Linked DNA regions of Homo sapiens. The protein of the gene in region 3 interacts with the protein of the main gene of each other region in a biochemical or structural test. Each region holds a gene or a part of one and is shown on either strand. Other genes may lie near its edges.

Region 1 (5,784 bases), on a different chromosome or scaffold from region 3:
GGTCAGGAGTTCGAGACCAGCATGACCAACATGGTGAAACCCTGTTTCTACTAAAAATACAAAAAAAAAAAAAAAAAAAATTAGCCGGGCGTAGTGGTGCCCATCTGTAATCCCACCTACTCAGGAGGCTGAGGCAGGCAAATCACTCGAACCCAGGAGGTGGGGGTTGCAGTGAGCCAAGATCGCGCCACTGCACTCCAGCCTGAGCGACAGAGCGAGACTCCGTCTCAAAAAAAAAAAAAAAAAAAAAGAAATAGGGTTACCAACAATTTTTAAAACTCACTCTTTCAACTAGCCTCCTTCTTAATCTAATAAAACTTCAAAATAAGAAGAGATGTATATGAAATGAACCAAATAATTGCTATAAACCACCTTTTGATATTTTGTACTTAAGGAAAAGTGATTGATTCCTTCTTTGCAATAATTACCCTTTTAATATGGTGGATACCTGTCCCCCACCTCACTAAGAATGGTTCAGAAACAAGATACTGTGAAATAATTGTCATCATTTACCTTTTTTCTGTCTATACTGGTTTGTATATTTGAGACTTTAAAATACCCTAAAGAAAAGTGACTATTTTAATTTTTCTAAAAGGTGCATAAGTATATACTTACTGTTGTTATTAGTGTCAAGTGATGACTGCCATGTTGAGTCTGCACTTTCACAATTTGAAATACTGGTTCTACTACACTCATCAGTTTTCAAAATGTCATCAGCACAGTTGTTAGAAGTGACTGAATTCACCAAATTAGGTGTTTTCTCAACAGGCACAAAACCTGAGTCTTCTGAACATAAAATGTTGTCACTTTGCCTTTTATCATGTGATTCTGAATTGGAGTTTGTTTCTAAATGGAAAACCATCTGGTCAGTTTTCTTGTCACCCACGGTACTGGTTACTGTAGACTCTGGCATCTGAACAACACCACTCAATACACTGGGTGGACAGCAACTGGACTTTAGACTACAAGCCCCCTCATGCTCAAAAAGGGATCTTGTTACATTTGTCTGATGCTCAGAATCGTTTTCAGAAGTGTTCAGTGAATCTTTTGCCTCTTCTGTGAAGACTCTGCTGGGGGATTCTGTTGTTCTACTTGGCTTTTGGTACGAACAAACAACTTGTTCCAATTTTGTTTCTGAATGAACAATTTCTTCTACTGGTTTTATGCAATTCTGAGAGAATACTTTACTTTTCTCTGATATTGAATTTTTATTAGAGTCCAATGAGGATGCACCATTTTCAGAAGGGCTACATTTGGTTATTTCAGTCGTCCTAGTTATGACACTAGGACTGAAACTCTGATTACCGCTTGGAACATTACTCCCAATTGCTGTTTTCAGCGCTTCAACATTCCTTGACTTATTCAGCATCTCTACTTGCTTCCGGCAACTTAGGGGCATTGTCTTTTTGGCTTTTAATATCTTCCGTTTACTTCTATCTGGACTTGCCATCTTTCATATCCTGGAATTTAAGACATCATATTTAAATGCATTTCTCTAGTGAATAAAAGTTATTTACTACTGAATTAAAGTTATTTATTTACAATATTAAAATAACATTGACACTGTCTCTCCATATTTAGATAATCACCTTACTGAAAATCATATCCATTTTCATGACACTGAAAACATAAAAATCTTTTCTATTGTTTCTATAAATCTAAACTACATAAATTCAAAATCTGTATTGCTAGTAAGCCTCTACCTGATAGTTTTATCTAGCCACTTCTTGTTATATCACCTCAGTGCTATAACCATTCACTATTTTTTTATCCAGGTAAGTCATAGTTTAAATAATCTAAACATTAAATTGCACTTATTCATAAAAACAAAAAAAAGTTTTTATAAAACATTCCATTTTCTATACATAATGGCATCTGTTTAAGCTTTCCTAATGTTCAAGTTTCTAAAATAAATGTGGCCAGGTGTCGTGGCTCATGCCTGTAATCCCAGCAGTTTGGGAGGCCGAGTTGGAAGGATTATTTGCAGTAAGGGGTTCGAGACCAGCTTGGTCAACGTGGTGAAACCCTGTCTCTACTAAAAGTACAAAAATTAGCCAGGCATGGTGGCATGCACCTGTAATCCCAAGCTACTCGGCAGGCTGAAGCACAAGAATCACTCGAACCCGGGAGGTGGAGGTTGCAGTGAGCCAACATCGCGCCACTGTACTCCAGCTTGGGCAACAGAGTGAGACAGTCTAAAAATAAAATAAAATAAAATAAAAATAAAATAAAATAAAACAAAATAAAAATAAAATAAATGAAGTAAAATAAATAAAATAAAAATTAAATTAAATTAAAATAAAATAAAATAATAAAATAAAATAAATAAAATAAAATAAATAAAATAAAATAAAATAAAATAAAATAAAATAAAACCAGCACTAAGATACATAACATTCCAGCTTAAATAAATAAGCCAACTAACCTGGTAGGGTGGCTCACGCCTGTAATCCTAGCACTTTGGGAGGCCGAGGCAGGTGGATCACCTGAGGTCAGGAGTTCAGGCCAGCCTGGCCAACAGGGCAAAACGCCATCTCTATTAAAAATACAAAAACTAGCCAGGCATGCTGGCACATGCCTGTAATCCCAGCTTCTGGGAGGCCGAGGCAAGCGAATCACTTGAACTCAGGAGGCAGAGGTTGCAGTGAGCCGAGATCGTGCCATTGTACTCCAGCCTGGATGACAGAGCGAGACTCTGTCTTAAAACAAACACACAAACAAACCTGATATATATACTAAATAAATCCAAAAAACAGCACAATACTCTTCATTAATTAAGACCCTAATATGCCTATACAATTCTATTTTTCCTATAGGACTGTGTATTATATGATTGTCTCTTCATGAATACAATTTTTGTATTATTTTCCAAAGAAAATGAACAAATCAAATCTTTCCTCTAGCATGGTTTTATGATGTATTTGCTAAAAGTGATAATCATGATGCATAAAATTAGCAGCTTTGCCTGAAGACACTGCTACAGTTTTGTGTCCTACAAATAAAAACATTCTTATATTATTTTAAAGGGAGAATTCAACCAGGTGTGGCACATACCTGTGGTCTCAGCTATTCAGGAGGCTGATGCAAAAGGTTCACTTGAGCCCAGGAATTAGACACTGCCGTGATCTGTGATTGCACCACTGCACTCCAGCAAGGGTGACAGAGTGAGACCGTGTCTCAAAGAAAAAAAAAAAGCAGGATTCCTATCAAAAAAAGAAAATAAATATATGGTGAATTTATAATTGAATGTGCTATGTTATTTTTGACAGGAGAAAAGTGCTGTTTTGACTGGAAATTGATGAGAACGAAATCCTACACTTAAAATTTTAAACATCAGATAATTGGGAATTTTTTCCTGATTACCTTCTGGTTCCATAATTTGCACTTTGGCTTCTCTAATACTCACATATTACAGGTGCCAGGCACCAGAGACCACATTCCCAACACAATCAGGCTGACAGGCTATAATTACCTACATCCAGAAATGACTCTGAATCACAAACACATCCCACTAAACACAAATAAATCCCCCAATCACAAAATGCCTGAAACCACTCTACTGCCAGCTGACACAAAGAAGAAATCAAGGTGAAGAGAGACAGGGGTCTTAAATGACTATACTTAAAATATCTTACTATTGTAAATCTGATGAAAACATCCAACCACGTGAACATATTGTTACTATGGCCCTTCTAAGGGCCTTTGGAAAAGGCCCAAATTAGTAAAACGTGCTGAAATTTAAGCTCTGGAGTAAAAAAATGCCTCTACATTTGATGCATACAAAAGACTTGTAATATGTGTTAATTACAAAGTATAATAAAGTGAACATCTTTGAAACACCTGCAACAAATAAGTAGAATACTATCAGTAACCTGCATTTACTTATGTTTCTCCAAACTATGCCCCTTGCACCTCTTCTCCATCCTGATGATGTATCCTAAACTTAGTTTATAATTCTATTACTTTTTCTACAGTTTCATCATAAATGTCATATGTAAACAAATATACTGTTTAATTTTGTTGTTGAGCAAACTATAGCTAATACTTGTTTTTTCAGTTATGTATATGTACAAAATTCATCCATGTGCTTACGTATAGCAATAATTCGTGTTCTTCTTTGCACTGTAATAATTCTTTGGGTAGATATACCAAAATTTGTTTATCTGATCATTTGTGAAAGATCTTTGGGTCACCTCCAGTTCCTTTTTTTTTTTTTTTGAGACAGGGTCTTGCTGCTCTGTTACCCAGGCTGGAGTGCAGCATGGCTCATGGCAGCTTCAGCCTCCCAGGCTCAAGCTATCCTCCCACCTCAGCCTCCTAAGAGGCTGGGATTACAGGCATGCACCACCACAACTGGCTAATTTGTAAAAAAAATTCTGTGGATATTGGGTCTTACTATGTTGCCCACGCTAGTCTGAAACTCCTGGGCTGAAGTGATCCTCATGCCTTAGCCTCCCAAAGTGCTGGGATTACATTTCCAGTTCTTGTTGATGTTCTGACACAACAATGCTATTCTGATTATTTCTGTCTCAAGGGGCTTATGTGTAAGCATTTCCTGAGTGAATTTCTAGATACTGAAAAGGTATCCATGTTCAACTTTTCAAGAAAACCAAATTATTTCCTGGAGCAGTTTTACCAGTTTGCATCCATACAGTCAATACGTAAGAGTTACCACTGAGCCACATCCTCTTGAACCCTTGGTATTGCCAGATTTGATTTTAGCCAATCTACTTGGATAAAGAATTAGCTCTCATTGTCTTAATTTGGGTTTCCCTAATTACTATCATCTTTTCCTATGTTTATTAGCTATGTTTACTTGTCTGTAAAAATTCCTGGTTATTTCCTGCTCATGACTTCTTGGGGTGTCTTTCCTCTTTCATTTTCAAAGCATACTTAACATATTATAAACCATATTCCGGCCAGGTGCAGTGGCTCAAGCCTGTAATCCCAGCACTCTGGAAGGCTGAGGCGAACGGATCACCTGAGGCCAGGAGTTCGAGACCACCCTGGCCAAAAGGGTGAAACCCTGTCTGTACTAAAAACTACAAAAATTTGCTGGGTGTGGTGGCACACGTCTGTATTCCCGGCTACTTGGGAGGACAAGGTAAGAGAATCGCTTGAACCCGGGAGATGGAGGTTGCAGTGAGCCGAGATCACACCACTGTACTTCAGCCTGGACAACAGAGTGGGACACTGTCTTAAAAAAAAACAACAACAAAAAAAAACCAAAAACCAAAAACATATTCCTTGTCAATCCTTTGTTATATGAGTTACAGGTATCTTATTAGGCTCTTCCTAATTTTAATATAGTCAAGTTAAATAATTTTTTTTCTTTTATGGTTAAAGTTTGATCTCTCTTCCTTGTGACATCCTTCTCTACTCCATGTTGTGTGAAATAGTGAAGCCTACTGGTGGTAAAGAAGCCTTTCACTGATGTAAGTTATTTAAGGACACGGTGCTATACCATGGCTGTGCAATTATTACAATATATAGTAAGAATGCAGAGTGCCAGCTCAGAGTAAATTTGTTAAACTTCATGAAAAACATGAACTAAATGGTCATTAACATTACACACTTCATAACTGGTTAAACTTCCGGCTCTGAGGAGAGGTATTTCACCTGGAAAATGTCTGCATGAGAATGCTTAGGGGAGACAAGTAAAACTGCTGATAAAAGGTGCAAGTAAGTTAAATATTTCTAACTATATAGTTTGCCTATCATAGAACCCGTTCAGTGAAGTTGAATTCATTGCTGAGAATAAAAAGCCACCCAAACTAATTGGGG
Region 2 (5,784 bases), on a different chromosome or scaffold from region 3:
CGGAACTCCAAGAGGAGACTGGAAGAGGCACACCAGGCGGAGAAGCCGCAGTCGCCCCCCAAGAAGATGAAAGGGGCGGCTGGCCCCGCCGAAGGCCCTGGCAAGAAGGCCCCGGCCGAGAGAGGTCTGCTGAACGGACACGTGAAGAAGGAAGTGCCGGAGCGCAGTCTGGAGAGGAATCGGCCGAAGCGGGCCACGGCCGGGAAGAGCACGCCAGGCAGACAAGCACATGGCAAGGCGGACAGCGCCTCCTGTGAAAATCGTTCTACCTCGCAACCGGAGTCCGTGCACAAGCCGCAGGACTCGGGCAAGGCCGAGAAGGGCGGCGGCAAGGCCGGGTGGGCGGCCATGGACGAGATCCCCGTCCTCAGGCCCTCCGCCAAGGAGTTCCACGATCCGCTCATCTACATCGAGTCGGTCCGCGCTCAGGTGGAGAAGTTCGGGATGTGCAGGGTGATCCCCCCTCCGGACTGGCGGCCCGAGTGCAAGCTCAACGATGAGATGCGGTTTGTCACGCAGATTCAGCACATCCACAAGCTGGGCCGGCGCTGGGGCCCCAACGTGCAGCGGCTGGCCTGCATCAAGAAGCACCTCAAATCTCAGGGCATCACCATGGACGAGCTCCCGCTCATAGGTAGGTCTGGGCGGGGGGTCAGGGGGTGGTGCCTGCCCTCCTGCCCCCAGATCCCTGCAGTTCCCTCACAGTCTTCACGTTCTCTTCCCTTGCGAAAGCTCCAGTTCCGCTTCCCTGTCTCGGGAGTAGTGGGCTTCTCAGCTCATTCCCCCTGCAGCCCTTCTTCCCAGGTCCTGGGCGTTGGTGGCAGGATAAGAATGGTATTGAGCTGCCGGGCGCGGTGGCTCACGCTTGTAATCCCAGCACTTTGGGAGGCTGAGGCGGGCAGATCATGAGGTCAGGAGATCGAGATCACGGTGAAACCCCGTCTCTACTAAAAATACAAAAAAATTAGCCGGGCGTGGTGGCGGGGGCCTGTAGTCCCAGCTACTTGGAGAGGCTGAGGCAGGAGAATGGCGTGAACCCAGGAGGCGGAGCTTGCAGTGAGCCGAGATCACACCACTGCACTCCAGCCTGGGTGACAGAGTGAGATTCCGTCTCAAAAAAAAAAAAAAAGTATTGAGCTTGGATCTGGGGTGAGCCCCCACTCTGGGTCTGGGCCCCTTGCTTCCCCTGGGCTGTCACCTCCTACCCACAACTGCTGGAGTTAAAGCAGGGGCCGGGGGGCCAGTGGGGAGCGCTGCCCCTCTGGATTCCACACTGGATTATAGAGGCTGGAAGCCCAAGGTCTAGGGGCCAGCAGGGTTGGTTTCTCCCGAAACCAACAAGACCTCCCTCCTTGGCTTGTGCATGGCTGTTTTCTCCCTGTGTCCTCACAGGGTCCTACCTCTATGTGTGTCTGTGTCTTCATCTCCTCTCCTTAGAAGGACATTGGATTAGGGCCCATCCTACTGACCTCTTTCTAACATAATTACCCTTTTGAAGACCCTGTCTCCAAATTCATTCATGTCCTGAGGTACTGGAGGTCAGGGCTTCAACATATGAATTTGGAGGGATCACCATGCAGCCCATAGCCCTCTAGGGTCCTGTAGGCCATTTTTTATCCTGCTCAGCCTTGTCTCTTCTTCCTCTGAGCTTCAGTTTCTCTGGCGATTTTGTCAAGGCCACAGGTCAAGGGATCTGTTGACCTTTTTTCTGAGACCAGGTTTTTTCTGAGACCTTTTTTCTGAGCTCTGGCTGGGGCTGTTGGAAACTTGTCACAGTGGATCCTTAGTGAATGCATATCTGGGCTGTCATGCAGACCCTTGCTCCTCAGGGTGGGTTGCAGGCAGATCCTCCTCTTGGGTTCCCCTGTAGCCCTCCTTCCCTGTCATCCTCTCTTCAGTCCTGCCACTGGGGACACAGGGTGAGGATGAACTTGCCTTGTTAAGGCTAAGTGGATTCTGTGGAGTGAGGTGCATCCAGGTAAGGTTGCAACCCCATCAGTCTAGACCCATGGGAGGAAACAGGCCACACCTCCATTTTGGAGATCCTCAATTTTCAAAGGCATGGAGACGTGTAGCCATCATTTAAGTGTCAGGGATTTGGCAGCAAGATAGGCTTCCAGGCAGGATGGAGGTTTCGTGGTTCCCCTCAGCAGGTGCCTGCCAGGACTGATGCCTGAGTGACAGTCACCTTAACTTGCAAGAGTTCTTGGTTTGTGCTCTGCTGTTGGGAATAGCACGTGATAGGAAGCAGTGCAGGGAGCAGGCTCTGCACACGCGTGCACCCACGCCCGCTGACCACGCCCCATGACTACTTGGGACACAGGATGACTGAGTCAGTGATGGAACCGCACCAAGTCCTCCTGCCTTTGGAGACCTGCAGACAGGAGGGAAACATTCCAAGTTTCCCTCCTCTGCTAGGTGGATGATGGAGCCTCGAGAGCACACTTGACATCGTAGTGACAGCGCCTTTTGTTTAGAGTAGGTTTTTCTTTACCCTCGACTCCCTTACCCTGGGACAAAAGCCATACTGTGCCTCCCTGTGGTGTGCTTATGCTTGTTGCCGTCACCCAGAAGTCTAAGGCGTCTGACATTCTGTCCCAGGGGTACTGACCTGTCTGTGACCCAGCAAGGCCTCAGGGCTGGGGTCTGAGCTCAGCCATCTGACAGTGGTAGAAACTTAATAACTTTGAAGTAATAGCCTAAAATCCACCCCAGCAGATGTGCCTTCTGCCTCTGTGTAGGTTCACTTCCACCGCAGGTCCCAGGGAGCCGCCGTGCCGCTGGCGGGAGTTGGGTGGGGAAGGGGCTCGGCCACGTAGCAGCCTCAAGGCCCTGAGTGGGAGTGATCGCAGCGGATGAGGATTCCATGAAGAATTCTTGCAAGCGCTGTGTGATTTTCAGGTGCTCTTGCGTTATAATCTACTTAGAGTGAAATATGAAAGTGTGGATTTCCTCCCTTCTGTGACCTGTGTTCTGAGTCACTCGGACGGTGGAGGACTTGTTTTGGTTGGGGGACTCGTTTTGGTGCCTACCTCTGTAAGTTGAGACAGTACCCACCTGCCCTCGGAGGAAGAACTCCCGATTGTCAGCCAGAGCCACCGTGAGTCCCACCTGTGACTCTGGGAGTCTGTGAGACCTGGAGTTTGTTGTGGAGTCTCAGTTCTTAGGTCCCTCCTGTCGAGGCTGGGGACAGTTCCCTCATGGATGTTACCCCAACTCCCCTGTTCTCCACAACCACATCAGTCCACTGTCCTGCCATTTAGTGTGAGTGGAATTCAGGCTGCTGTGTCCCCATCCCTGGTCTTGCTGGTGTGCTGGGAACTCGCTCTCTGTGTGTGCTGTGTCTGCCGAGGTGGTTCAGACGCTTCACCTAGTGGGTCCTGTCATGCTTGGTATGTGCAGCGACCCTGCCTGGACTGGATCCGTGCACACTTTACCTTTTATTACTTAAAAACAATATATCCCCACACTCTAAAGATTTAAAACGTTGTTAATTTGTACTTTGTTTAGTATTTTGTTGATGGTTATTTTGGAAAATCTCCCCTACCCCCCTTCCTTTATTTGGCCCGAGGGAGGTTGCTTTCTCCATTCCCATCTAGAAAAGCCACTGGGCGCGCGTTAAAACCTGCCCAGGTTTGATGTGCATTTGCGCTGCTCTGTGGCCTGATCAGGAGGGGCACTGAGCACCAGCTTATGCACTGAGAAGCAGCCCGCTGTCTGGATGGGCGAGGGACGAGGCATAGATGTGCTGCCCTGTGTCCTCACGCAGGTGTTGCTCTTTGCTCTGGAAATCCAGCAGGATGGAAAATAGACTTCCTTTGTGTGAGTGAGTGGGTGGATGGGTGAAGTTGAGTGAGTGAGTGGGTGGGCATTGGGAATTATAGAAGGGGAATTGGGAGTTGGTAACAAGCATGTGTCAAAGCTATTCTAGGTGACGCTGGGCCGTGGGTGCAGCCAGGACCCCTACCCACTCCTCACCAGGGAGCTAGTCTTCTCATGACACCCGCCTCCATGTGACAACACATGTACCAGTACATGGTACACTGGGATGTTCCTCCCTGTATGTCTGTCTGGCCAGCTCGCATCCTTTTCCAGCCAAGCCCCAGCTTAAATGCTGCCTCCTCAGACGCTCCCCACCTAAAATGGTAGTCCCTCGTTCCACCTGCTCTTCGTAGCAAGTGGTCATGACCCATCATTTTGTAACGCCCTTCTCTCTGTGGACCGGGAGTCTGCTGTTCACCACTCTCACCCCAGAGCCTGTCAGAGTCCTGGCTCATAGTAGGAGTTCAAGAAGTACAGGTTGAATGAGGAACATCTTGTTCGTGTCTCTTTCACTAACTGTCCCGTTTTTTTCCCCTTCGCTGTCCCAGGGGGCTGTGAGCTCGACCTGGCCTGCTTTTTCCGGCTGATTAATGAGATGGGCGGCATGCAGCAAGTGACTGACCTCAAAAAATGGAACAAACTAGCAGACATGCTGCGCATCCCCAGAACTGCCCAGGACCGGCTGGCCAAGCTGCAGGAGGCCTACTGCCAGTACCTACTCTCCTACGACTCCCTGTCCCCAGAGGAGCACCGGCGGCTGGAGAAGGAGGTGCTGATGGAGAAGGAGATCCTGGAGAAGCGCAAGGGGCCGCTGGAAGGCCACACAGAGAACGACCACCACAAGTTCCACCCTCTGCCCCGCTTCGAGCCCAAGAATGGGCTCATCCACGGCGTGGCCCCCAGGAACGGCTTCCGCAGCAAGCTCAAGGAGGTGGGCCAGGCCCAGTTGAAGACTGGCCGGCGGCGACTCTTCGCTCAGGAAAAAGAAGTGGTCAAGGAAGAGGAGGAGGACAAAGGCGTCCTCAATGACTTCCACAAGTGCATCTATAAGGTAGGGGCCTCCGCAGAGCAGCCACTCCCAGCTGCAGGAGTGCGGGAGGAATGAGAGAGGAAGTGGAGCGTGCTATGCACTGGACGGTGTGTTCTCTGATTCCCTGGGGTGATGAGGGGGCGGGCCACTGTGCTGGGTGATAGCGCTGTATTAGTCCTCTCGTGTTGCTGAAATACTACAGACTGGGGAATTCATAATAAACAGAAATGTACTGGCTCCTGGTTGTGGAGCCTGGGAAGTCCAATATCGAGGAACCTAGTGAGGGCCTTGTGGGTGCGTTGATGGGGCAGCAGGAGACCCAGTGAGGGAGGGGAAGTCCACTCCACGAAGATACCACGAGTCCATTCCGCCTGCCTAGGGCCTCGGGTTTCCTTTTCATTAACTGGCTTGCGTGTGCGTGTTGCATGCACGTGCACACATCTCCATATGCCAGGGATAAGTAACTGGGCTGCATGCTTCGTTTCCCCTGCTTCTCCAGTTCCGTTTCATCCTGGTGCTCGACAGCTGCCCAGATCCAGCTGAACTTCTCACTGGCTGGACCGTCAGTGGACTCTGTGCGCTTGTTTTCTCTGTTTTCTATCCGCTCACCTCACTGCCAGCCCAGCGTTGCCAGGTCCTCTCTGTGGAGAGCTATCCCTGATAAAGCCATCAAAATGAATCTCACCATTCACACGCTGTGGAGGGAAGAGCTGGGGAGAAACCAGCAAACTGAAACATGCAGCGTTTCCCTGTCTCCGCCAGGTCTCCCGGCAGCACACTCATCCTGAGGAGACTCGCCCCTCCAAGAAGCAGGGGAGGCAGAGTCCGTGGCTCTCCTCTTGGCAGCTCTCCCAGCTGTCCTGGCTCTGAAGCAAGGCTTGGGGTTTCCTCCCTTCTCCAGCCTGCCAGTGGGTAGCGGGGCACCCGGGGCC
Region 3 (5,784 bases):
ACACTGGTTGAACTGGATCCAGGAACTGAAAAATATCAGTGTGGTTGGAATGACTTTGGAGGGAGACAGGAAAGGGCCAAATATATAACCTAAGGTTAAGAGTCAGAATAAAATCCAAACAGCAGAGGGACTATATTATAGAGTTAAGCAGGGGAGTGATATATTATTTGTGATTATTTGAAAATATTTTTATGAAACATTTCAAACGTGTAAAAAAGATATGAACACTCATGTACCACCCAGCATTATCAAATCTAAACGCTATTGTTAGATTCAAAATTTTGTTAATAATTAAAACATACATGATACAGCAATGCAACTAAACAACTGTCTATTCCTTTGTTTAGTTTTTCAATGTTATCAGTACAAATTCATCCTATGATCTCCCCAGTAGTCTCGATCTCCTCTGAATGTATTCAGGCACCTCAGGTTTTCTGTTAAACCAATTTTCCTGAAGAAGTCGCTCCTACAGCATCTGACCTGCTCCTGCAGTGGCTCTTCTCTATGCCTAGTACACAGCTGTCAGCCTGGAAGCCTCTTTCACTGCACTGTCACCTGTCTTCCCCTTTCCTGCCTTTCCCTCTCATTTTTGCAAATATTTCCAGAAACTTTCTGAGAAGGGGAATGATGAAAAACTCTGAGGTACTGCATGTCTAAAAAAATGTATTTAGCCTACTGTAACACCAAATTGATAGTTTGCCCGAGTTTAAAATTCCAGGTTGGAAATAATTTTCCCTTAGAATTCTGAACAGATTCTCCAATTGCTATCTAGCTTCTAGTGCTACTTTCAGGGAAGGCTGAAGTCATTTCAAGTCTATTTTTTAACGTGTTCTATTTCTCTTCTCTAGAAGCTTTTAGGATTTTTTTTTCCCTCAGTGTTCTGACATTTTATGATAATGTCTCTTAATGGGAACCTACCTTTATCCTTCATTATGTTGGGACCTAACTGGCCCTTTCAATTCAGAAACAAAGATCCTTCAATTATGGGACACTTTCTGAATTATTTCACTGATGCTTTTCTCCTCTGTTCTGTTAATTATGTATTCTGATCACTAGGTTTATTAGTTCACGTGTTTATATATACCAGTTTACCATGCTATACCCCACTCTTTTGTTGTCCTCCTCTTGTTTTAGAGATAAGAGTCATGCTCTGTCACCCCAGGCTAGAGTGTAGTGGTGTGATCATAGCTCACTGCAGCCTTGAACTACTGGGCTCAAGTGATCTTTCTGCCTCTGCCTCTCAAGTAGCTGGGACTACAGGCATGCATCTACCATGCCCGGCTAATTTTTTAAAAAATAATTTAGGCTGGGCGCGGTGGCTCACGCCTGTAATCCCAGCACTTTGGGAGGCTGAGGCAGACGGATCATGAGGTCAGGAGATAGAGACCATCCTGGCTAACATGGTGAAACCCTGTCTCTACTAAAAATACAAAAAAGTAGTCAGGCGTGGTGGTGGGCGACTGTAGTCCCAGCTTCTCGGGAGGCTGAGGCAGGAGAATGGCGTGAACCCGGAAGGCGGAGCTTGCAGTGAGCTGAGATCACGCCACTGCACTCCAGCCTGGGCGACAGAGCAAGACTCCATCTAAAAAAAAAAAAAATTTTTTTTTTAATTTTTAAATCATTTTTTTTGAGACGGAGTCTTGTTGTGTTGTCCAGACTGGAGTGCAGTGGTGCAATCTCAGCTTACTGTAATCTCTGCCTCCCAGCTTCAAGCGATTCTCTTGCCTCAGCCTCCCAAATAGCTGAGATTACAGGCGTGCACAATCACGCCTGGCTAATTTTTGTATTTTTATTACAGATGGGGTTTCACCATGTTGGCCAGGCTGTTCTTGAACTCCTGACCTCAGGTGATCCACCCACCTTGGCCTCCCAAAGTGTTGGGATTACAGGCATGAGCCACCGCGCATGGCCAACAATTTTTTTTTTTTTTTGAGATAGAATTTTGCTTTTCTTGCCCAGGCTGGAGTGCAATGGTGCGGTCTTGGCTCACTGCAACCTCCACCTCCTGGGTCCAAGTGATTCTCCTGTCTCAGCCTCCCAAGTAGCTGGGATTACAGGTGCTCGCCACCATCCCTGGCAAGTTTTTTGTATTTTTAGTAGAGATGGGGTTTCACCATATTGGCCAGGCTGGTCTTGAACTCCTGACCTCAAGTGATCTGCCTGCCTCAGCCTCGAAAAGTGCTGGGATTACAGGCGTGAGCCACCACGCCCAGCCCCAACAATTTTTTTTTAGACACAGGGTCTTACTATGTTGCCCAGTCTGGTCTCAAACTCCAGGCCTCAAGTAATCTTTCGGCCTCACCCTCCTCAGTAGCTGTCCTCAACCTCATGCTGGTTCCACCTCCTCTGCTCAACCTTTAAATGTTGGGGCACCCAGGGCTTACTCCTGAGCCGCCTTCTCTATTATCAACATTGTCTCTAGGTGAACTTATTCAGGCTTTAAATACTCCTGTGCTGATGATTCCTAAATTTTTATATCCCACTCTCTCCAGAAATCCCAGTGTCTTCTTGACATTTCTACTTGGATTGCCTGACAGGCATTTCAAACTTTTTGTTTTGTTTTGTTTTCTGAGACTGAGTTTCGCTCTTGTTGCCCAGGCTGGAGTGCAATGGTGCGATCTTAGCTCACCACAACCTCCGCCTCCCAGATTCAAGCAATTCTCCTGCCTCAGCCTCCCGAGTAGCTGAGATTACAGGCATGCGCCACCATGCCCGGCTAATTTTTTTTTTTTGTATTTTTAGTAGAGACGGGATTTCTCCATGTTGGTCAAGGCTGGTCTTGAACTCCCGACCTCAGGTGATCCGCCCGCCTCAGCCTCCCAAAGTGCTGGGATTACAGGCGTGAGCCACTGCGCCCGGCGGCATTTCAAACTTAACATGGCCAAAACAAAAACTGAATTTCACTCAAACCTACTACTCCTTCGGTCTTCCATCTCAGTAAAAAGCACCAACAACCACTAAGATGCTCAAGCCAAAAATTTAGGAATTGTCCTTGATTCTACTCTTTCCCCCCACTCCATAATCTATCCAATTCTGTAGCTCTACCTATTAATACAGCCCAAATCTATCCTTCTTACCTCTACTATCACCTCCATTCTATTGCAAGTCATAGCTGCAACAATGTCTCTCTCTGCTGTACTCCTATAACGATCTCCTAATTGGTCTTCCAAAATCTACTTTTGCCATCCTAAGACCTATGATCTACAAAGAAGCCAGAGTAATCTGAAAAAGGCAGGTCACATCACTTGGCAGCTTAAAATCCTGTAAGAGCACCATGAATTTGATTCTAACTTTTCTTTTTTTTTTTTTAAGGCAGAGTCTCGCTCTTGTCACCCAGGCTGAAGTGCAGTGGCATGATCTTGGCTCACTGCAACCTCTGCCTCCTGGATTCAAGCGATTCTCCTGCCTCAGCCTCCCAAGTAGTTGGGACTGCAGGCACCCGCCACCACCCCCGGCTAATTTTTGTATTTTTAGTAGAGACAGGGTTTCACCAGGTTGGCCAGGCTGGTCTCAAACTCCTGACCTCAGGTGATCCACCCACCTTGGCCTCCGAAAGTGCTGGGATTACAGGTGTGAGCCACTGTGCCAGCCTGATTCTAACTTTTTTCATTCTGATTTACAAAGCCCTATGTAATCAGGTCCCTGCCTACTTCTCCTCTCTGAACACATTTCACTTACAAGTGTAAATCACAATCTGTTAAGACATTCATTTAGCTATGAAATTAAGATAATCTTTTTTTGCAACAGAAAATTGCTAGATACTATTCAATCATTCTATGTCTTCATTTCAAGGAAGGTCCAAGAAAAAAAATGTGTTTTGGAAGTCATGAAATAAGATCTAATTAATAAAATGCCTCATCTGGTATTCTATTTTTGGTTCCAATTTTTAGATTTCTGATGATTTCTATAAGCACAGAAAAACAAGAACATGCTCCTCAGTCTCTCTGAGGTACTGTGCCATTCCTTGACCACTTACCCTGTGGGTAGACACTCTTCTAGTCTCTTGTACTGGTAGCCAGAGTTAGGGTTGATTTGGCCTCCTGGGGTACAGGCTGTAGCCTGGATAGTTAGTTGATGGCAGGCACACTTGGACCTATATGACAGAGGGAAATAAAGGAAAGGAGCGGGGGGATCAGAGAACAAAAATAACACAATACACATGTACCCAAGGTTGCTCAGTGTGGCCATGTCAGACTCCAGCCTCCCTACCTCATAGCTTTCATGGAGGCCTTATAGCAGGAGTTCCAGGTGAGGGAGGAGGTAAAGGAAGATGGGGAAAGCAGTACAGATACAAGGCAAAGGAAGAGGTGAAACAGACACCATAACAAAGTTGGAAGCAGGGGCAGCAATTCCCCCCACCAACTCACTTGTCCCGACACCCATCCTTGCAGTCACAGCCAACCAGAAATTCAGGGCCTGTGTTAATGAAAACACCCTTGCCCGGGATACGTTCCTTGCTGTAGGCCACCTGGGGTGGAGGGGTTGTGTCAATCTCATTGACACAGGATAGGGGAACATCTTCCTTCCCATAAGTGATGTCCAAAATATAGTAAAAAGGCTTATAGGGCTGAAACTTTCGGTCCACAAGAACATATGGATCCAAACAGAACATCTCCAGGAAGAGGAAGTCACAGCCAGTCTCGAAAAGGTAGCGTTCTATCTCCTGCATTGTCCGAAGGCAGAGACCACAAGGTGTCTTATAGATAACATGAAAGCCCATCTTGCGGTTAACTCGACGCCGGGCTGTCATCCGCCGGAAGTCATATAGTAACGGGACCAGCAGAGGGTTCTTGCCCCGGTACTGCTCATTCCTCATAGGTCTGACTCGAGACAGACAGGTATAGCTGCAGACATGAGGTAAGTAGAAAAGCTTCTCCATGGGAGCACGGTAGGAGGGCTCTGCTGGGGCCCGCTCCAGCATGCCATGGAAGACTGGGGGTGCTGGAGGGGCCGGGAGTGCTGAGGGTGCTGGGGCAGAGGCTGTGGAGCCTAAAGGTGATCTGCAAATGAGATGCAAGTGATCAGATCGGAAGGCAACAGGACCTCTGTTTTATAATTAACCCTCCAGGTAGCTAAGCCATTTCTCTCATCTTTCAAACAGCTGTGCTCCTGAAGCTAAAGATGATTCAAGAAAGATCTTCCCTTGCCCTACCAAACCTGGACAATGAAACTCCCTGGTTACTCTTCACTGACTGATAACATCTCTATTTCTCTTTTTTTTTTTGAGACAAGTTTCGCTCTTTTTGCCTAGGCTGGAGTACAATGGCACGATCTTGGCTCACCACAACCTCTGCCTCCTGGGTTCAAGCGATTCTCCTGCCTCAGCGTCCTGAGTAGCTGGGATTACAGGCATGCGCCACCACGCCTGGCTAATTTTGTATTTTTTAGTAGAGACAGGGTTTCTCCATGTTGGCCAGGCTGGTCTCGAACTCCCGACCTCAGGTGATCCACCCGCCTCGGCCTCCCAAAGTGCTGGGATTACAGGCATGAGCCACCGCGCCCGGCCTAACATCTCTATTTCAACAGTATACCTTTTCCTAAAATGTATTTGCCTGTGAATTATGGAAGTAGAATCCAGTCTTCTACCAATGTTTTTTTGGTCTGCTGCGTGTTCTAAAAATGTCCTTACTAACTCCAAGGAAAGAGGCTGTGGTGTTTCCTTTCTATTTTAGCAATGATGGCACCATGTTCAACAAGAAGTTTTAACAAATGGCTTTCAGATGATACCATATTTCCAAGCACCCAGCTTCCAATTCAATTATTCTTACTTTCTATTTCTTAGGA
Region 4 (5,784 bases), on a different chromosome or scaffold from region 3:
CCACCCCTGAGCTGGACAACCAGCTGAGGGCCTGGGCAGGTGGGCCCGCCAGGTTACAGGGTATGGGTGGGGTCTGCAGTCACCGGGCCCGCCTGGGGGGTGTGTGAGCCCAAACACAGCGCCCCAAGGATCCCACCCCAAAGCCCGCAACATTGGCAGCAGAGTCACCCATGAACTCCCAACCCCCTCAATTCCAACGTTTCTGAAATCCAAACCTATCATTCCTTAAGGTTCAAGGAAAACACACCTAAAGGCGGCATGGCAGGGAAGGGAACTCCCGTTGGAGATGAGGAAGTAAGGGGCCTAGGGTTCGCCTAACAGCCCCATCCTGGCCTGGAGCCCCAGGGCCCTCTGCCAACCTGCCCGGGGCCCCAGCGCTGGGCTGGGGGAACCTTCTCCTGAGGCCATGGGACTAGGCACAATGGTCCAAGCAGACAGAAGCAGCAGGCAGCTGCCCACCCAGGGTGGCCTGGGGAGCAGGCCCAGAGCCACAGCCACAGCCACCAGTCTCAGCTATGGGAGGGCCCGAGGGCAGGGTGCTGGCCCCAAGCCGGGCCGGGTGTGCCCAGGCAGAGGGGACGCCAGCGGGGGCCGCGCCAGTTCCCTCCGCTCAGCCTCGTGCAGGACTTCTAGGAACCCGGCCTGATGCAACCCGGCCAGGCTTCTCCTGAGAGTGGAAGGTGTACGGGGGTCTAGGCCCCAGCACAGGAATCATTCCACCCACATTCTGTCCACTCTCCTGGGCCTCAGTTTCCCTTCCCGGAGTCCAGCCCCCCACAGGGCATCCCTGCCCAGAGAGGGCCAGTGACCAAGAAACACACAGGAAGAAGAGCTGTCCACTCAGGAGCCACCAGGCGTGGGGGCTAAGGTCCAGGGCTGGGGCCAGCAGTGACCCCTCACCCCCACTCAAGGCCACCTCGGCTTCCTCTTTTGTTGTTTTTGAAGTGAGAACTCAACAAGCTCCCAAAACAGGAACCTCCCTGATGCTGGCGGCCTCCACCACAGCCATGCCATGACCTCCACCAGCCTGTGCCTCCTGCCCCTCTCCCGGGTAGGCCCAGGGCTGTTGGGACCCCCACTCTCTGCCCAGCCCTCCCACCAGGAGCCAGCACACTTGCCTCCCCATCTCTGTCCCTGGCCTGCCCACGGGGGCCGTTCCAGACCCTCAACGCTCCCCCAGGGGAGGCAGAGCTTGGCACTAACCAGCCCAGGGCCCGCGGGTCTCACACTGAAGCCACCTAGACGCAGCCTGGGGTTGACCCTCACCTGACAGCCTGGGAAAAACTGAGGCCCAGGAGGCACAGGCAGCCCTGGCCTGGAGCCCAAAGGTTCCCACAGGCTGAGGGGAGAGTCTGCGGGCTCCCTCCCTCAGGGTCCTGCTGGGCCCCTCATCCTGGCGGGGTAATGAGCAGCCTCCATCTGCACACAAACAATTAGCCCTGCGGGGCCCTCCGCAGCAGCTGCTCTCTGGAGTGGGCTCAGAGTCCCCCACAGACCTCTTCTCAAGGGTGTTTACTCAGCAAAGCCAAGGCCTCCTCCAGGATGAAGGGGAGTGGCCTGTACCCTCTGAGGTCCCCCACCTCACGCAGGGACCCCAGGACCAGCTGGATGGCTGAGCAGCAGCTGGGGATGCAGTGAGGTTCTATGTCGCTCACCAAAGCGAAGTAACACACTGGGGTAGGAACCACTCTCTCCCTGCCTCAGTGCCCCCCCGCAGGGACAGCCAGTGCCAGGACTTCAAGGCGGGGAGAGGGGGTGGGAAGGAGGCCCAGCCTAGGCACCTGCTTGGGGTCAGAGACCAGCCTCCATACTCCCCACCGGGACGCCTGGGGCTAACTCAGCAGGAGTGGTGAGGGGGCTGCCCTGAGGCCTGGACTGGGGGGTCTATGCCAGGCATGGGCCCGGGGTAGGGCATGGCAAGGACTCAGATGTCCGGAGACTGGACCCTCCGTGAGCCGCATGGACACACGGTCCCGTGTCACCCGGGCCCGGCCAGGCACCCAGATCCGTGGCTTGGACACGCTGCCCACACACTCAGGAGCGTCTGCCGCGTAACCCACGCGCCCCAGGCAGCTTCCCTCGACCCCCGCCCACTCGGCCTTGGCCTGCTGGGTCACAGCCTGCCGAAGGCAGCCAGGCCTGCAGCTCTTCCCCGGCCCCTCTCGGACAGCGACCAGCCTGAGGGAGTCCAGGTGGTGCCCCTGCGGCCGGCACCCACTCCTGGCCTAGGCCCAGCCCTTTCTCGAGAGCCCAGAGCACCTCATCCTGGGTCCCAGCATCCCGGCCACCCGCCTCGGCCCTCTCCTGACCCACTTGGTCCAGCCATGTGGACGGGGGGACGCTCAGGAAGACAGCCGCGAGTGGACAAAAACAGGCTCCAGGCCGGGGCTGCACCAGGGCAGCTCTCCACGGGGCTAGGCTGCAGCCAGGCTGGTGCACGGCCCCAGGAGTACTGGGGCAAGCGGGCAAGGTGAGCAAGCTGTTTGGGGAAAGTACCTCAAAAGAGCCACACAGCCTCTGGCCAAAGCCTGGCACGGAGCTATCAAAGGAAGGAAAACTGCAGGCTGGAGGCCGAGTTCAGCCAGACCTGCGCCCTGGCCCAGGATTGATTTTTTAAAATTGTCAGCCTTCAAAAATCAGGAGACTTCACACAACAGAACAAATCTTTGAAAATGCAAACGTCTGAGCAACACTGAGCCCACCAGACCACCAATGGCCAGAGCTGAGCTGGGCTGCTTATCCAGTGAGACAGCCGAAACAGGAGGGGACATCTGGCCCCCTGTCCCTATAGGCCCCACCAGCCTCCTCACTAGCTCCTGCCCTTAACAGCCTAAGCTCACCCTCCAGGAACCATCTCCCTGTTAGATGTGCAGACCCAGAGGCCTCGCCTGGGTCCAGCCACAGGTCCACACAGGCCTGCAGCCGGAACTCCTGTGTCCCCATGCCCGGTCCCTTCTGTCCCTGAAGCTCCTCTGACTCAGAGCACACACATCAGAACAACAGAAAGCAGCCTGGGCCACTTCCCAGAGATGACGCTCACCTCCCAAGGAGCAGGAGAAGGAGCCTGCAGACACTGCCACCCCACCCCTCACACACAGGGCATACCCGTCCCCTCTCATCTCAATGACCACATCACCCCTGAAGGCACCATCACGCCACGTGTGGCCAGCCCAAGTAGCCGTGGTGGGACTGTCACCTGGGGATTCAGCTGAGAACCAAAGTGCCCCAGGCCACGGTCGTGGGGAGTCCCGGCAAAGGGGACAGGTGCGGGCCAGCCTCTGAGACAAGCACCCTGACCTGCAGGAGCAAGGCTGGGGGGGAGTGGAACAGGGCGTCTGCAAGGGGCTGCGGCCGGGCCTGGAGGACAGTCACTGCGTCCCTCCCTCCCTCCCCACCCCCAGCCAGGCCTGAGCACTGTGAAGCACGGGTGGGGTCAGCCCAGCACAGCCCTGCTAGGGACAGGAAGGCAGCTAGTACCTCTAACCAGTGTTGCGGGTGGGGCTGGCCCTGCCAGGAGGGTGGCACAGCACATCTGCAAGACACACAGGGGACCCCAGGGACGGGAGTGGCGAAATGCGGCAGGCCCCGGAGGACAGGCTTTCCTCCGCAAGGAGCGGCCGGCCATGCGGGTGGACGCCACCTGCTCTCGGCAACAAGAGGGGCTATGCCTGCCAAGGGCATATGTCATATCCACGCCACCTCCCATCCTCAGCGCCCACTACACTGGGGATGGAGGAGGAAGAGCCGGGGGTAGAGGTACAGGACCCTCTCTCCTGGCCTGAGGCTAGGGGCCAGATGACAGAGCCCAGAGGCTGCTGAGGCTGGCCGGACCCCAACTCAGGGCCGCCCACAAGCCATTCTCCACTCCACCAGGTCTCTCTCCCACCACCGCTCCCTGGTGTAGATGGGGAAACTGAGGCCCAAGGAGCTCAATGACCTTGCTCTTGGAAAGGGTCATGGCGATAGAGTGGCTAACCAGGGTTCAAACTCAGCTCTCTGGACGCCCCACTGGGCCTGATGTCCTGTCCCTGCCAGGCCCCTCCTGAAGGCACGACATCAGCAGCAGCCTGAAAATCACCTGGCCTCGGGGGAGCACTCCTGCCTAGGCCCAGCTGGCTGATGGGTGCCCCAGTAACTGGGGCCTGGGCCCCTGGGCAGTCAAGGCCCTGGCATCTCCTGGGTCAGCCCGAGATCCAACAGTCTATCAACAAACACACATTTGCCAAGGATAAAGAAGCAGCGGCCCCAGGCAGCAGACTATGTGACACAGAGAGGAACAGGGCCAGGGTCGGGGCAGGGGGTCCCTGACACCAAAGAGGGCTGTGAGGTGAGGAGAGGACCTCCAGGCACAGGTGGCAGGACTCCTGGGGAACAAGCAGGGGACAGCACACGGGGAGGGGATGGAGAAGGCAGGATGCGGCAGGAGGCCTTGGGGGGAAGCAGAGCCAGAAGCTCCCCAAGGACCACAGGCGTCTGCAGCCTCCTTGTCTTCATCTCGAGGCCCCGCGTGCCATCACTGGTAGCTGCCCACTCAAACACTCCAAACACACAGCCAGCCACACCCCTGATTCCCCCAGCATCTCATCTCGGTCACTCCTTCACCCCACCCCCAGGCTCCTGTGGCTCCTTAGGCCTGCTCTTCTGTGAGCTCCTATACATCCCACAATGCCCCATCTTGTGACACCTACTTTTGCCACACCTCCCTGTCTGCTCCAGCTGTGTTTGGGGTCTCCCCACTACCAGATGTGAAACCCATCTGCTAGAGGGTGTACGTAAAGCCGGGGGGCTGCTGGCATGAGATCACTAGAACTTAGGAGGGAACAAGTCTGGAAAAAGAAGTCAGGAGAGGGCGGACCGATTCCGCCTGGGGCAGAAGAGAGTGACTTGGCCAGAGGACCTGGACCTGAACAGGAAGCCCACCCTAGCAGGACAGAGGAGCAAAACAGCCACCCAGACTCCACCGCACCCCGCTGAGCAACGGAGGGTGGGTGAGGCAGAAGGGCCTGCACAGGGTTGGAAGGGGTGGGGCTATGTCCCCAGCTCCCATCCCACCCAGCTGCTGGCCAGGCCCCTCGGGCAGCACCTCCTCCATAGGCTGCAAGGCCAAATGAGTGAGGAGGGGGACACAGGGGCTGGGGGACTTGGCTCAGCCAGCTCTGCAGCTCCAAGGCAAACATGCCCTGTGCCCAGGCGGTACGGATTCCCCCCACCCCCAAAGCTCAGGCCTGAAGCAGGCACCAGGCCAAGCCAAGCAGCCCTGCCCTGCCCTCAGGAGCCCTTGGGCAGTGCCCTGGGCCGCCAGCGTGCCAGACCCTGGAACAGCCCAGTGTCCTCGCTGCCTTCCAGGAAAGCCAGGAGAGAGGCTGGCAGCAGCTCCCCCGCCTGCCAGGGCCCACACCAGGAAGCCACTCAGATGGCCGGCCCTGCACAGGGCCTCATCCTCCTGGCCTCCCCGAGGCCGTGCCCTCCATGCCATGGGAAGACATGGGGCCCAGGACACTCACCCTAGGCCAGCCCAGGAGCCCCAGGGGAGGCAGCCCCTCCCACCCAGCAGGGCACAGGCACTCACAGACCCTGGGGCTACTACCCCCATCTCTCCCTCCCCAGGCCCAGCCCTGGCAGCGGGTACTAACCTCGTTTGTGCAGCCAACCCTCCTTCACAATAGCCACGTCGCTCATGGTGCCCGAGGCTCCCGCGACGCTCACGCGCTCCTCTCAGGCTGGCGCTCCCCGAGCCCAGCTGGCCTGGCCACAGCCTCTGGGAGAAGCAAAGGAAGCTGAATG
Region 5 (5,784 bases), on a different chromosome or scaffold from region 3:
TGTATGGTTACATGAGAAAAAAACATGTGTCATCTTTAAACAACAGGAATGGAGTCTCCTATACTGTGGCAGCTTAGTTTTTACTCTAATGGAATTCACTTCTGACATTTACCACCTAAAAGGAAATAAAAGAGTTCAAAAGCAGTCTCTCTTTTCCCTTACATGCTTTTTCCTATGACATTCTATCTAATAAGAGTAACAGGGCAGATATACATCTAAGGCTCCAAAGCCTTAGCTGGGAATAAGCTGCAGCAGTCAAGTCATCCTTTATTGTTCCATCAAACTCTTTCTCCTGGTCCTCAAAACAGCAGATTCCCTTTCCATCTTTTTAGCTTTATCCTTCTACAAAATGGTAGGCATTATCACTGAGAATTACTGAACCAAAGAAAGTTCCTTTTACAGCTTTGACAGTTCTGAGGACAACTATTCTAACATACAAATCAAATTTCTTATTAGAATGTTAAATTATTAGAATGCCAAGAGTGATGGACACATAATTTCTAGGTATCAAACCAGATAATACTTCCCCAAAGTAGCATAGGGCTATACAAACAACAAAGAAAGGGAGAACGGATCATATATAGTAAGACATTATGGCATTACTACCTCACATCACCATCATACAAAGGGGTCCTCTCTCCCAAATACAGCTAGTTACTACCAGTTATTGGATATAAAAGAACACAAAATGTTTCTTATAATATTCTGAGCAATGGAAAACTGCAGACATGAATAAGTGCATATTTCTGATGGCAAAGTTAATAAGTCATCTTCATTTCCCAGATTCTCATATTCATATAGGTCCAACTATAAAGACTCTCAGGAAGGTATAACTGTTCCCTTAGGCCTATGGTATTTTTTTTTTTTTTTTGAAAAGTGGCTGAGGTACCTGAGTCATCCTCTTAAAGATTCTAAACTCCAAATGATCGAAATTTAAAATTGAAACATTCACACCATATAAACAAGCACTAGTAGCCCTGATCTACTTATTCTTAACTGAAAGTGCTCCCCAGCACTCACTCTCTGTCTCCAATACAAAATGGTTTCCACCATGCAAGCTGAATCATCTATAAAAAGTTTAATTTTCTTTGTTTTCAACAAATTAAAATGCCTGGAGGAGCCCCTGATTTACTCTGTGGATGGCAGGACAATCTGAGAAAGAACATGGCAAAGTAATGTTTAAATACTCTTGGCCTCTCTAATAAAATATAAGGTCAAACAAGCAAGAAGTTTAAAAGAGAGTTCCACTAAAGGATAGGCAATTTCTAAGTACTCTAGGAAAGTGACAAGGACTATGGTCTCTGAAGCTAATTAATGACATTAAGGTAATCTGTTTAAATAATGTTAAAACATCACCTAATTTTTCAATCAATAATATGCCCCACAACTGTTAGAAACTCAAAAGGCAGGAACTTTATTCTCAAGCTTCTTTATACATGTGACTCCCTTGAAAAACAAGGTATGCAGCCAATGCATAAATTTTCCATAGGCCTCAAAACCTAAAAGAAAAAATTATAATAGAAATCCTTCTAAACTAAATCACACGCTCATTTCCCTTCTGAAATAGGTTAAATATAACAATATTCTCTGATTCAGAATCATTAATAAAATCATCAATTAATAATGAACATTCTATAACTACTGATTCAGCTCTGGGAATACTGATTCCCAAACTAAATAGCCTCATAACTAAGTTTATAAATTATTGCTTCTAACAGTAGAAATATAACCCTCCTTTACTATCATGATGCTGGACATCATTTCTTTTCCCTACCAAAATGCATTTCTCAAGTAGCACTTCTAATTTTTTACTCCTCATCTGTTATAGTCTAGAAACCAAGTATAATAATAAACCAGAACTAGAAAAAGTTCTCAACTTTCACAAAAAAGTAAAATATCTAAGCTGTTATAAGCAGTGTTGCTTGAAAAAGACCCAAAGGCAGGGATTTTTCATTAAAAAAGATAAACTGCTTAAGAAAGGCCAATAATATCTTAATATTTTATATCCATTTTCTAGATTTATTTTCATAAAGCCAATAATATTTTATCATTTGAGTTCTATATTTCCGTGATTTCTTCTTTTCATTCCTCCACTAATTTACAAGTTTAGTTCAATAAAAATGTTATTTTGGCAATAAACTGACTCCTGAATCAATTATTTAAAAGATATAAAGTAGAATTACAGCTGAAATACATCCTTATTAATCAAGATAATCTTTTTCAATGCAATCAGCATAAAAAAGAGATTTAATGGAAAATAAATTTATTCTAATAATTAGGGAAACATCCTTATCAGAAAATATAATAATTTAATGATACCAAGGAAACTAAAATAAAAATTTTTTATCTTTATTATGAGATTAAGCCTCACCCTGGCCAGAAAAGGAGTAAGGTACCTTTTCAAATTCCTCCATCAAAAAAAAAAAAAATTGTCTGTGTTTAACAAAAAAGGATTTTGATTTCGAATATTGTACAATACTTTATTTTGCGACTTATTTTTCCCACGTCTAACTTCATACTGATACTACTTTTATGTCATCATGTCCTAAACCAGATTGAAAACAGAAATATAACCTTATATTGTCTCCTAATTCATCCCTACTAAAATTATAGCTGCACCAAGAAAACATCCTCCTGAAAAGTCACAGATACCACAAATTCTCCCAGAGTTCCTAGGAAATAGTGCTTTTTGGTAGTCTACAGGAAGTGTGTAATACCGATGAATTAAAAAAAATAGTATAAGGTTATAAATTCACCCAATGTAAATTTAATGGAATTGTAACCAAAACCATTAGCTGGCTTTTTTTTCTTAATTAACCAAATGAACCTAAAGTTGATCTGCAAAAACAGTCAAAATCAGCTATGAAAATTGTAAAATAGAATTGTGAGTGGGTATTGGATTTTATATAGGATATAGCACTACAAACACATATTTAAATTGTGTACCGTCCTACAGCAAATAAAACAATGCAATAATGCTCTAAGAATAAGGCCCAGATACAGTCATTGTCAACCTCTGTTTAAACTTTATATCATATATTCTTTTGAGAAGCTAATGAAAGCTATCACTTTTTCCCCAGAAAAATGCACATAGGAGGCCAGGCGCAGTGGCTCACACTTGTACTCCCAGCACTTTGGTAGGCCGAGGCAGACGGATCACCTGAGGTAGGAAGTTCGAGCCAGCCTGACCAATATGGAGAAACCTCGTCTCTACTAAAAATACAAAATTAGCCGGGCATAGTGGCACATTCCTGTAATCCCAGCTACTCAGGAGGCTGAGGCAGGAGAATCATTTGAACCTGGGAGGCGGAGGTTGCGGTGAGCTGAGATCGTGCCATTGCACTCCAGCCTGGGCAACAAGGGCGAAACTCCATCTCAAAAAAAAAAAAAAATGAACATATGCAGACTTACATAAAATTGTGTATATCAAGGGATCGGTGGAACCCCTAGAGGACAATGGACCCCAGGTTAAATATACCTAGTATATGAATCAGAATTGTTTGCTACCAAAGCAATAAGAAATGGATCAAGTCTATGGAAACTAGATATCTGGAAAAAAATGGAAACTAGCAACTTATCTTAACACACAATATGTCAAAACACAGATATGTCCACATAGATGTAAAAGTATTTTTTAAGTTTATTAAAACTTCCAGAAAAAGTTCTAGTAAAAAATTAACAAAACACATGAACAAGGCTGTGCACGGTGGTTCACACCTGTAATTCTAGCACTGTGGGGGCCAAGGCAGGCAGATCACCTCAGGTCAGGAGTTCAAGACGAGCCTGGCCAACACGGGGAAACCCCGTCTCTACTAAAAGCAGGGCATGGTGGTGCACGCCTGTAATCCGCTACTTGGGAGGCTCAGGTAGCAGAATCGCTGGAACCCAAGAAGAGGTTACAGTGAGCCAAAATCACACCACTGCACTCCAGCCTGTGAGACAGAGCTAGACTCCACCTCAAAAAACAATAATAATAAAATAAAATACAATATAAACATACAATTCACCTTACAACAGGTAATATTTTCTGGGCAGACAAGTGCTGTAGAAATCATAAAGGAAAAAGGAAAGGCAGTACAGGCTGGACATGGTGGCTCATGCTTGTAATCTCAGCACTTTGGGAGGCTGAAGTGGGAAACTCTCTTGACCCCTGGAGTTCAAGACCAGCCTGGGCAACATAATGAGGCTTTGTTTATTAAAAAAAAAAAAAAAAGAAAAAATTAGCGGGGTGTGATATCCTTCACCAGTAGTCTCAGTTACTCCAGTGGTGGGAGAATTGCTTGAGCCTGGGAGGTCGAGGCTGCAGTGGGCAGAGATCACTGCCACTGCACTTTAGCATGCGCAGCAGAGCAAGATCCTATCTCAAAAAAAAAAAGGGGGGCAGTACATTTTACTACATAAAAATGCAAAACTTCTTAACATATACAATCATAAACCACTTAAAAGGTAATTTTAAAATTACTGTGACAAATATTAAAAGCTAAGGACCCCAAAGCCGTAAGTAGCTGTTACCAACAAATAAGAAAAACAGTAACACTCATCATAGAAAAATACACAAAAAGTCAAACAGCTAATTCACAGAAAATGAAAAAAATGCATATATAAAACAATAACAAATTCAACTTCACTAGTTATCAAAAAAAGTTAATGAGCTACTATTTTTCACCCATCTAATTGATGGTGGTATTGAATATGATAAAAAATGCTTTTCAAAAAAAAGTTTTTATCAATTTTGCAAATTACTTTAAAAGTCCTTTGAAAGTAATTTCAAAGAAATATTCTGAGGTATAGTACAAGAACGTTCACTGTAGCATTATTTTTAATAGAGAAATGAGCAAAAAGCAAAACAGGAAACAAAAAATGAAAGGTTTAATAAATCACAGTAAATTCTTCTTAGAGATAACAATAATATGTAACCATTTTAAAATGTGTTTAAAAAGAACATTTGATCATGTGGGATATTATAATAAAGTATCATGCAACCATTTAAAGACATATTTTAGAAGAATAATGAAATGGGAAAATACTCATAACATTAAAAGAGTAGAAATGAAATTATGGTACCAATGAAAAACTAATTAATAAACATTTATAGATTGCTCAATCATGGAAAAGTGAAGTCACAAATCACCAATACCTTTAGAGTGGTTATTTCTAAGCATTGTTAATTAATTTTCAATATTTTCCAAATGTTCTATAATGAATAAGTTTAAAAATATTTAAATACATTTATCACATATGCAAAACCTAATTTAAAGAAAAAATAGTTCTAATTGTTTAATAACTCAAACCTGTCTTTTCTAAACTACATATAAATTTTTAAATTTACAAAACTACAAAGATTTTAAATAACTTCAGTAACTTGGTATTCATTCCTGGAGTAACCTAGTCTTAATATTTATATATGTTGGATATGTGTCAAAATTTTGTGGCATCATAACCACCAAACTAAAATTTTAAAATATACTTGTTATTGACAAAGTACTAATAAACAAATAGTTGGTGTTCAGGCAATTAATTAATCTTATTAAGTTTACATGATTATATCTGCCTTGTAAGAAACATGACAGCAAAATCGTCCCATCAATAAATATGTTCTTCATATTCAAGAGCATTTTCAAATACCTCTTACTACCTTCAATATTAACCTAAAAAGCAATCATCTGTATATTCAAATGAAAACATACGCTTATATACACCAAACTATTTCATTTTTCTGGAAATGTAAAGTGTACCATGCCCTAAGATCAAAGATCAAAGTTCTTTTGTTAACCGAAATATTTA

What was found.
Region 1: the proteins of SETDB1 (region 3) and ATF7IP2 form a complex in vitro, tested with the Homo sapiens proteins (one study listed by BioGRID).
Region 2: the proteins of SETDB1 (region 3) and JARID2 form a complex in vitro, tested with the Homo sapiens proteins (one study listed by BioGRID).
Region 4: the proteins of SETDB1 (region 3) and AKT1 form a complex in vitro, tested with the Homo sapiens proteins (one study listed by BioGRID).
Region 5: the proteins of SETDB1 (region 3) and ATF7IP form a complex in vitro, tested with the Homo sapiens proteins (one study listed by BioGRID).

Annotation. Positions count from the first base shown.
Region 1 is NC_000016.10:10,426,287-10,432,070, reverse strand, and holds part of ATF7IP2 (activating transcription factor 7-interacting protein 2), read right to left. Parts: exon of another isoform or gene 3,204-5,784; 5' UTR 3,055-3,203; intron 2,700-3,054; exon of another isoform or gene 2,426-2,699; intron 1,461-2,425; 5' UTR 1,451-1,460; coding exon 616-1,450; intron 1-615. UniProt on the Homo sapiens protein: Recruiter that couples transcriptional factors to general transcription apparatus and thereby modulates transcription regulation and chromatin formation. Can both act as an activator or a repressor depending on the context.
Region 2 is NC_000006.12:15,496,537-15,502,320, forward strand, and holds part of JARID2 (protein Jumonji), read left to right. Parts: coding exon 1-634; intron 635-4,370; coding exon 4,371-4,873; intron 4,874-5,784.
Region 3 is NC_000001.11:150,949,674-150,955,457, reverse strand, and holds part of SETDB1 (histone-lysine N-methyltransferase SETDB1), read right to left. Parts: intron 5,001-5,784; coding exon 4,368-5,000; coding exon of another isoform or gene 4,364-4,367; intron 4,094-4,363; coding exon 3,977-4,093; intron 1-3,976. UniProt on the Homo sapiens protein: Histone methyltransferase that specifically trimethylates 'Lys-9' of histone H3. H3 'Lys-9' trimethylation represents a specific tag for epigenetic transcriptional repression by recruiting HP1 (CBX1, CBX3 and/or CBX5) proteins to methylated histones.
Region 4 is NC_000014.9:104,786,965-104,792,748, forward strand, and holds part of AKT1 (RAC-alpha serine/threonine-protein kinase), read right to left. Parts: intron 5,759-5,784; 5' UTR 5,680-5,758; coding exon 5,634-5,679; intron 1-5,633. UniProt on the Homo sapiens protein: AKT1 is one of 3 closely related serine/threonine-protein kinases (AKT1, AKT2 and AKT3) called the AKT kinase, and which regulate many processes including metabolism, proliferation, cell survival, growth and angiogenesis.
Region 5 is NC_000012.12:14,367,548-14,373,331, reverse strand, and holds part of ATF7IP (activating transcription factor 7-interacting protein 1), read right to left. Parts: intron 1-5,784. UniProt on the Homo sapiens protein: Recruiter that couples transcriptional factors to general transcription apparatus and thereby modulates transcription regulation and chromatin formation. Can both act as an activator or a repressor depending on the context.